Regions from separate parts of the Homo sapiens genome. Here all the other regions are linked to region 1. The links come from fine-mapping of genetic effects on gene expression. A gene starts in region 1. Each other region holds a variant in brackets. All regions are shown on one strand. Distances are from middle to middle. Region 1 holds the start of SLC31A1 (solute carrier family 31 member 1). Region 2 overlaps FKBP15 (FKBP prolyl isomerase family member 15). Region 3 overlaps SLC31A1 (solute carrier family 31 member 1).

Region 1 (2,781 bases):
ACCCTACAAGGCAGAACTGAGTATTTGTGGTTGCAATAGAAACCACATGGCCCAACAGATCTGGAAGCAACTTAAGGGCAGGCACAGCAGTTTAATCATTTTTGTAACCTCTTAGCATTTAGCAGAATAAGGGGCATATGTGGTGCATTTGTCATTTTTCCAGTACATTCTTCAGCACGCACAAAATTTGTTAAGCATATGTTCAAAGAAAAGCTCTGCAATGATCAGAGCTTGGTAGCTCACAAGTTTGGAGGAAGTCAAGCTGTCCACTGGCACAACACAATGGAAAAGGCTAAACTGACTACTAAAAGAGACAAAACCCTTCCTCTCTTTAAAGATTTCTATTCCAGGCTGGTATATATTAATATAATGCTTGGGGAAACTGGAGAATGACAGAAGTCTGTTACGTTGGTTTTAAGCTTTAAGCTTTACAAAGTGCAATTTCGCAGCTATTATTCATTCAACAGCCACTTCCTGAGCACTCACTATGTGCTAGGTACCATGCTGCATGCTAGACAGAAATGAACACCATAAGCAGTCCCTGTCCGGTGAGGACTCATAATCTAATAGGTGCGGGGTATAAGAATAGAGGCAAACACACCTAGCTGCAGGAATAAGGAAGAGAAAGCAATTCATTCTGCCTGAGGTTGCAGAAGGAAAAGCATCCAAAACGTGACATCCGAGCTGGGCCTTGAAGAATGCTAGAGCTGACCCACCAAGGCCTGGTTCTAAAGTGTCTTCGCCTTCTCCATGGAGAAAAGAAGTCTCACATCAGCCCCAGCTGACTCCTATAAAAATTCTGAGGCAGGAAGTCTCATCAGCAATCATTCCCATTTCACCGGAGAAATTGTGACCCAGAATGCAAAAGGCAAACCCAGGGCTATCTTCCCGCCAAGAGAGATGCCGGGTCCCGAACCTCAGATCGGCAGGGTCAGCACAGTTGCAAGTTCTGCCCAGATTCTGAGAGGTGTAGAGCACCGGAATGTGGCAAGGGTCTCCCCCCGGAAGTTGGGAAAAGGCCTGAGAAGAGATCGACCCCCCTCCAACAATCCGCCGGTATCTCTCAGCCACGCCCTCCAGCGCATACTTCTCAGTCACTCACCCGCCGCTCGGCGAGAGGAAATCGGTGTCGTCCTCGTCCCCCGCACCGAACATTGCGTTGGCTTTCACCGGGTTGCGGGGAGGAAGCTGGGTATTCCCAGAGTCCCAGGGCCTGTCACCGCCGACGTCGTAAAATGCCGCGGCGGCGTGCTGCTTTCCGGCAGGGCGAACTCCAGCACGGTCTCTGGACCGAAAGTAGACTGGGCTCTGGAGAAGGTGGGGCAAAGGCAAATGAGAGGCTCGCGCGGGCACGAGCGCCGAGTGACGTCAGGCCTCTCCAGCCCGCAGCGGGGCGGAGCTTCACAGCCCCTTGCAGGGATTGGTCGGTAATGCTAGGGGGCGGGAGGGGGCGGGAAATCCTCGGCCTCGGTGGCGGTGGTGGACACGTCGAGCCGGGTAGAAGTGGAGGGGCCGTTCGAAGAGTCGTGAGGGGGTGACGGGTTAAGATTCGGAGAGAGAGGTGCTAGTGGCTGGACTTGACCTGGAAAGGTAAGGCTTCTCTCGGCCCCTCTTTCGCACCCCTGTGCATGGGTACCGTCCTTTTCCCAGCGGGACAAGGACCTTCCTCGCCGCTTTCCTCAGCTCCGCGGAAGGAGAAAGAGCTCGGGACTGGAGGGTTAAAGACTGGGGCTTCGGCCCGGCCCCTGCAGTGGCATAGCCAGAGTGACCTTGGGCCGGGGTGCTCGGTGCCTCAGTTTCCCCGTGTATGCAACCGGCCATTTGTCCAGTTCTTCCATGTGCCTGCTGGTCCAGAAGATTTTAGAGCTCAGAGGCCATGGATTTCAATCCCGGCCTCCTCGTAATCTCAGAATTTACAGATAGGGAGACGAAGGAACTAAGCACCCGGGTGACTAGTCCGAGGTCACAAAGAGTAAAGGGCAGACTGAGACTGGATTCCTCGTCCTTTGATTCAGGACATAGTGAGCTAGTGGGTGAACAAGAACCTTATCAGCCCTTAAGCACTGTGTGCCCTTACAGAGTGACTATTGAAAGACTGTAGCATACACCTCGAGGAAAGTCCCCTTTCTAGAGTCCACCTGTATTCTACGCGGATGAGGTGCAGAAGAGCTAAGATATTCTGGCGGTGGGTGATGGAAAGGAGGATACTTTGGAGGCAGACACATCCCCACCCCAACTTTGGCGTGGGTTTCCCTGGGTCTTCCTGCGACAGCCCTAAATCAACATCAATTGTGGCGGACTCCTCTGCCTCCAGTTTCCACCCTATCTGTATCTTACATAAGTATTTCTTTGGTTAACCTGGTATCATTCTCGAAACAATCCTGGGGTAGTCCTGGCTTAGACAAGGTGTGGCTAAGGAGATAGTGTCCCAGCGTAGCGTCCACAGACTCACTGGAGTTCTTGGGCTTCCCCTCACAGTCAGGTTGGTACTACAGGTGTCCCTTACGTGAATGTTTCAATCTGTCAGTATGAAATTGAAATGAAATGATTGGTAGCTCCCTCCCAGAGAACTTTGCACCTCCTGGCAAAGATGTTAAAGCAGCGAAGGCTCACAGTTGGAATGATGCAACTGGAATCTAAGCACTAGAACCGGAACTGGAACTAGAATCTAAGGACTAGCACTAGAACTGTTGCAGTAGCTCTGTTTAGTGTGTGAACTTGGCTACCTCTTGGAGGTGTTGGGGGAGTAACTGGATTAAGTACCATGGCACTTTCTAATCC
Region 2 (2,781 bases), 53 kb before region 1:
GGGGTGAAAGGGACTGATGGGCCATGAGAGACCCTCTCTTTTCACAGCTTGAGCTCCTGGCCTTTCTCCTCTGGCTTGGCAAGGGAACAGGACCTACCCGGCTAGCAGGGATTGATGCTACAGACAGGCACGAACTGAATAGTCTCTACTAAGGCATTCTCTGCTCTGGTGAGCAACTGCCAACCAGAATCCATCTTCACAGGGCCAGGCAAAAGGGAAGGCAGCGTGATGTGTATACAAGTCTCTGGGCTAATCCCACGTCACTACCAATTAGCCAGACCTCGTACTTCTCTCTGGACATCAATGACGTGATCTCTAACTCTGACAGTATAGGATTTTCAAGTGTGGCTCACAGCTTCTGTTTTGTCCTGACTAAAGTTCTGGCTCTACATTTACTAGCTATATAAGCTTAGTTAAATTATTTAATCTTCCTGAGCCTCAGCCCTCTGATATATAAAATGGGATAAAAGTACCTACCTCATTGGATTAGTAGATTAAATGACAACATCTGTGAAGTCGTTTTCAGAGTACCCAAGAACTACATGTTAACTGGACAGTATTGGTACTAATACCAATAATATGCTCACTAATTAAAAGCTTCCAACTATATTTAGGGCAGTCACTTAGAATATACTCAATTTGGTTTTTCCCCCTTTTTTCCTTTTTTTAAGGGCAGAATTGCTATTCTGGATTCTCAAATGAAAATTTAACTCTTGAGAAGAAAGACTCATGGAAGGAACTGGTACATTCCCCAAAGGAACACAGGCAAGAGGGAAGGGCTCCGATACATGCAAGCTGGAGCATAGATCCATCACAGCTCTCTGCTCAAGGTTTTGGCAAAAGGCAAAATCCACTCTGGCTGATACATGAGGGGACAAAATTTGCCCCATTCACCCTCATATTTCTGTCCTTTAGATGGACTGAGCCTGAAGCCCACCTGTGTTCTCCATATGCATTTCAGAGCAGTCAAAATGGCCTAGGGACAGCCAGAACGGTTGTAACCTAGCACAGCGGGGAGCAGCAGAGGCGAGAACCGGGGTTCTAATTCAGTCCCTATCAGTGCCCTCCTCTCCTGGCCTTCACTCTTGTTCTGTGAAGCTATGCTATTAAT[AC/A]TGAACCCATTTTGTGCCCAGGGATATTGTGATGACAAAACAAGGCAGCAGGAAAGCAGGCTGAGTAAGTGGAAAATGCTCAGGAACAGGAGGTCTTTACAGGAGCCTGGGGATTAGTCCTAGCTTTGCCATTAACTCACTCTGTGGCTTTGGGTAAATCATCATTTTGAGCCTCAGGTTTTTTATCTATGAATAAGGATGCCAGGCAAGATGATCTTCAAAGTCCTTTCCAATTCTAAAATATAAATAATATCCTAGCAGATTTGGGGAAAACTAAGGCTTCAGCATTCCAATGTGGGGCTAAGCAGCTCAGCTTTCTTCCTCTGAGGGGACTAATTCCTGCATGGACAGAGACTATGATTCTTTCTCAAAAGTAAAGTGGTATGTGACCGTCCCCTACTCTGCTTACAGAGCTGCGCCCTCCCAGCCCAGCCCCAAGCCTGCTCCCACAGGGCCCTGCACACAGAGTCCAGGGAGTGGGCCACCAACAGGCTCCATTTCTCTTCTCAGAGCCAGTAGGGAAGAGCCCCCAGGTGGGTGTGTGAGGACTTGACAGTGCCTGGGATTTCCTTACCACCTCGTCTTCATCCTCCTCCTCAGGCTGTGCTTTGGGCCTCAGAGCTTTCAGAGTTGCCCCTTTAAACAGTTCATCCTCTTCATCCCCAGAGAGACTGAAGGAAAATCAAGTCATAGAAAATGTTATTGTTCCTGCTCCAGGTCACAGTACCCACCACCTACAAGGGTCACCGGCCCTTGGGTAAGAATTCAACAGCGTTGGTGACTGCTCAGGAATTCCTCCCACCTCCGCTGCCACCATCTCTTCCCACACCCTACAGTGGCCTCCTAGTGCGGTTGGCCCCCTCCAGAACCTACAGCCAGAGTCATCTTTTCAATGTGACCTTCTCAGAATCCTTCCCTAGCCACCCTATCTAAAGTGGAACAACTCCTTTAGAATAGCACCCTGTTTCTTTTTTAAAAGGACTTATCATACTTTATGATATGTAAGTATGTATTTGTTTTCTCCACTTGACTGTCACTCCTTAAACTCAAGAACCAAACCTGCCTTGCCTACCACACTATCACAGGGCCCACCACACTACCACAGTGCCCGCCACACTACCGCAGGGCCCGCCACACTACCACAGGGCCCGCCACACTACTGTAGGGCCCGCCACAGAGCCTTGTACATGGTAGGTGTTGTTGAATTAATACATCAACTAATGAATGAAGACATGAGTAAATTAGTCTCTGAGGGATGAGTTGCCAGCCCTGGAAAAAACAGAGACACTCACCACAGATAACTACCCTGTCCCTGAAGCAGTGCTCAGAGGAACATACCTGGAACGCTGGGAATGATGGCTGGGTCTGAGGGCTGCTCCTGCAACTGTGGAACCTGCCTCTGTGCTTGACAGCTCCTTGTGGGGACCGGTGGAGCTAGTGACATCATCTTTCTTGAGCTGTGGAGGCTGAGGCTCTCCTGGGCTTTCAGGCCCTAAGGCCAGTGGGTCCCCCTCCTCGGGGTCTGAAGTCAGGGACAGTCTTGTGGAGCTTTCTTGTAGTGGGCCATCTGGTGCTACTTCCCTGACACAGACCTTTCCTGATGGGTTGTCGGGCTTAGCTGCCATTGGGCTGGCAGCAAGTGACTCCTCACACTCAGAGTCCATGGATA
Region 3 (2,719 bases), 42 kb after region 1:
CCAAGCAGATCCTCATCCTCCATATAATCATCTTTGTTATTCGTGGGGGTTTAATTACATTACAAGTGGCCAAAACCCCTGTTCTCAGTGAAGAACCACATTGGATTTGTATTCTGTTCAGTTGTAGTCTACACTGCAGTCTTATTCCTGGTTCAAACTACCTCTTTAAATTGATTTGTCTTGTGCTGGTCTGTTAAATCCTGCCCTCCTTGGTGCTAGATCCAGTTGTGCCTCAGGGCAGAGGAAACAAAACACAGCTATCCTGTTGGCCTGTGTTGTGGTTTTGAAGTTTGTACTTTCTCTGTGGGTGCCAGTTAAATATTGGAGAGCAAGGAATGTGGACTTGTATGGCTTTGAACCAAGAGAGGGTTATGAGCCTACTGGATTGAGGTTAAAATCCAAGAACCAACATTTAGAGCTTTGTGCTTTTCTCTCATTCCATCACTTTGTAATGATGATACTTAACATGAGCAGGGTGAATGACAGGTACTGACGAAGTCCAACACAAAGGTATAATACAGCCTGTTGTCTAAAGCCAAGGAGTCATAAAACCATGAGAAATAAATAGGAATCAATAGTTAGTAGTGACATTGGTGCTCTCTAGAAATCTCAGCATGAGCTGCTATAGAATACCCTCCCAGCAACAAAACCTAATCAGTAAGGCCAGCTAGACCCAATGGCTCATGCCTGTAATCCCAACACTTTGGGAGGCCAAGGTGGGAGGATGGCTTGTGTCCAGAAGTTCGAGACCAGCCTGGACAACATAGTGAGATCCTATCTCTATAAAAAATCAAAAATTAGCCAGGCATGGTGGTGCATACCTATAGTCCTGGCTATTTGGGAGGCTGAGGCAGGAGGATTGCTTTAGCCCTGGAGGTCGAGGCTGCAGTAAGCCATGATTGCGCCACTGCACTCAGCCCGGGTGACAAAGCAAGACCCTGTCTCAGAAAAAAAGAAAATTCAAGGCCAGTTAAGACAAAATGCTATGACTTTGAAATTCACAGAAAGAAATAACAGTTTAGATTAGGTCTTCAGGTATTCAGGATAGAGATAATCTCCTGAAAAACCTGAATTTCAGAGATTCTTAGACTGGCTGCCAAAGGATGAAGCTAGTGAAGGAGAAAAAGCTTAAATTCCATCTTGAGCTCTTGGATTGTGATAATACAATGATTTCATTAACTTTTCATTTCTGTATACCTGTTCATTTGGAATTTAATGCTTGACTTCTTTGTTCATTTTGGATCTAAACTTCTCTTTTCTTCCTTCCCCATTCACATCTATTAGAAGACTGCATCACCATTTCTTTGGCCCCCTTACTCTGTTGTCCTTTCCCTTTTCTTTCAGTTTTTTTAATCGCATGTCTAGTATATTAAGTCTCCATAGCCCTCCTGATGCAGTAGACAGTGCTATGCTGTGGATATAATACCAACCAGAAATTGGCATTTATAAACCTGTTAAGAGACTTTAAGCATGCTTCAAGAGGCAGTTGACCCACTGGAATTTCTATAAGGCTGGTACCCTTCCCAGAGTTACAGAATCTT[A/G]GGTGCCGTCTCTAGTCTGTGAGGGAGGAACTCCCAGCATCCCCATTGCCCACAAATGGAATCCTCACTGTATCCACTAGGAGATTAGAAATTAAGGTTTCTTCACTACTTCTATGGTAGGGTTGTCTGAAATTCCCTTTCAGGCTGTGGGTACTGGTCTTGGGTTCTAGTCATAAGGGGTTCCTTATAAGGAGCAGGCGGAGGGGAGTACACTTTCATGTGATTTAATTTTGATCCTGCCCTCTCCAGCTGCTCCTTCAAAAGATACATCAAAAGATAGAAACTCTGGGCTGGGCACAGTGGCTCACACACTTTGGGAGGCCAAGCGGGGGTGCAGATCACCTGAGGTCAGGAGTTTGAGACCAGCCTGGCCAATGTGGTGAAACCCCATCTCTACTAAAAATACAAAAATTAGCTGGGCGTGGTGGTGCATGCCTGTAATCCCAGCTACTCGGGAGGCTGAGGCAGGAGAATCGCTTGAACCCAGGAGGCGGAGGTTGCAGTGAGCCAAGATGGCGCCATTGCACTCCAGCCTGGGCGACAAGAGCAAAACTCCGTCTCAAAAAAAAAAAAAAGATACAAAGTCTGCATTTGATATAATGCCTTAATTACTGGGTCTACAATTAATGTTGACTGTTTTAGATTGTAAGCTCCTGGAGAGCAGTATTGCTGTAGTAGGAATGTTTTAACAGTGTCATATGAAAAAGAACAAAATAAATATTTTGATTTTGTGATTCTATGCAAGTCTTTCTGCCCAGAGTGATAATGCAATAAGCTAGTCTTTTCATAGTCTGCATAGAGTCTGGCCATTACCATCAGTTTTTAAGATGTCCATATTGTGGCCGGGCGCGGTGGCTCACGCCTGGTAATCCCAGCACTTTGGGAGGCTGAGGCAGGTGGATCATGAGGTCAGGAGATCGAGACCATCCTGGCTAACACGGTGAAACCCGTCTCTACTAAAAAAAATATTAAAAAATTAGCCAGGCCTGGTGGTGGGCGCCTGTAGTCCCAGCTACTTGGGAGGCTGAGGCAGGAGAATGGTGTGAACCCGGAAGTCAGAGGTTGCAGTGAGCCAAGATTGCACCTGGGCAACACAGCGAGACTCCGTCTCAAAAAAAAAAAAAAAAAAAGATGTCCGTATTTTAGGTGGTATGATCCTTTTAGGTTTTCATCTCACT

The links. PIP is the estimated chance that this variant, and not a neighbour inherited with it, causes the effect. A credible set is the group of variants that fine-mapping cannot tell apart.
Region 2: its variant is the best candidate, but not a certain one, in a credible set for the expression of SLC31A1 in whole blood (TOPMed, PIP 0.50).
Region 3: its variant is the best candidate, but not a certain one, in a credible set for the expression of SLC31A1 in thyroid (GTEx, PIP 0.76).

Annotation. Positions count from the first base shown.
Region 1 is chr9:113,220,089-113,222,869 of GRCh38, forward strand. It overlaps SLC31A1 (solute carrier family 31 member 1), which reads left to right and starts at 1,456. Exons shown (of 5, transcript NM_001859.4): 1 at 1,456-1,590. FKBP15 (FKBP prolyl isomerase family member 15) reads right to left here and starts at 1,189. Exons shown (of 28, transcript NM_015258.2): 1 at 1,103-1,189. The coding sequence starts at 1,155. RefSeq lists enhancers at 988-1,117, 1,228-1,337, 2,178-2,367.
Region 2 is chr9:113,166,774-113,169,554 of GRCh38, forward strand. FKBP15 (FKBP prolyl isomerase family member 15) reads right to left here. Exons shown (of 28, transcript NM_015258.2): 26 at 2,451-2,781; 27 at 1,687-1,783. Among named protein-coding and RNA genes, the nearest start is that of SLC31A2, 17 kb to the left of the region's middle. The variant AC/A (reference allele first, on the strand shown) is at 1,112.
Region 3 is chr9:113,262,213-113,264,931 of GRCh38, forward strand. It overlaps SLC31A1 (solute carrier family 31 member 1), which reads left to right. Exons shown (of 5, transcript NM_001859.4): 5 at 1-2,280. Among named protein-coding and RNA genes, the nearest start is that of CDC26, 12 kb to the right of the region's middle. The variant A/G (reference allele first, on the strand shown) is at 1,542.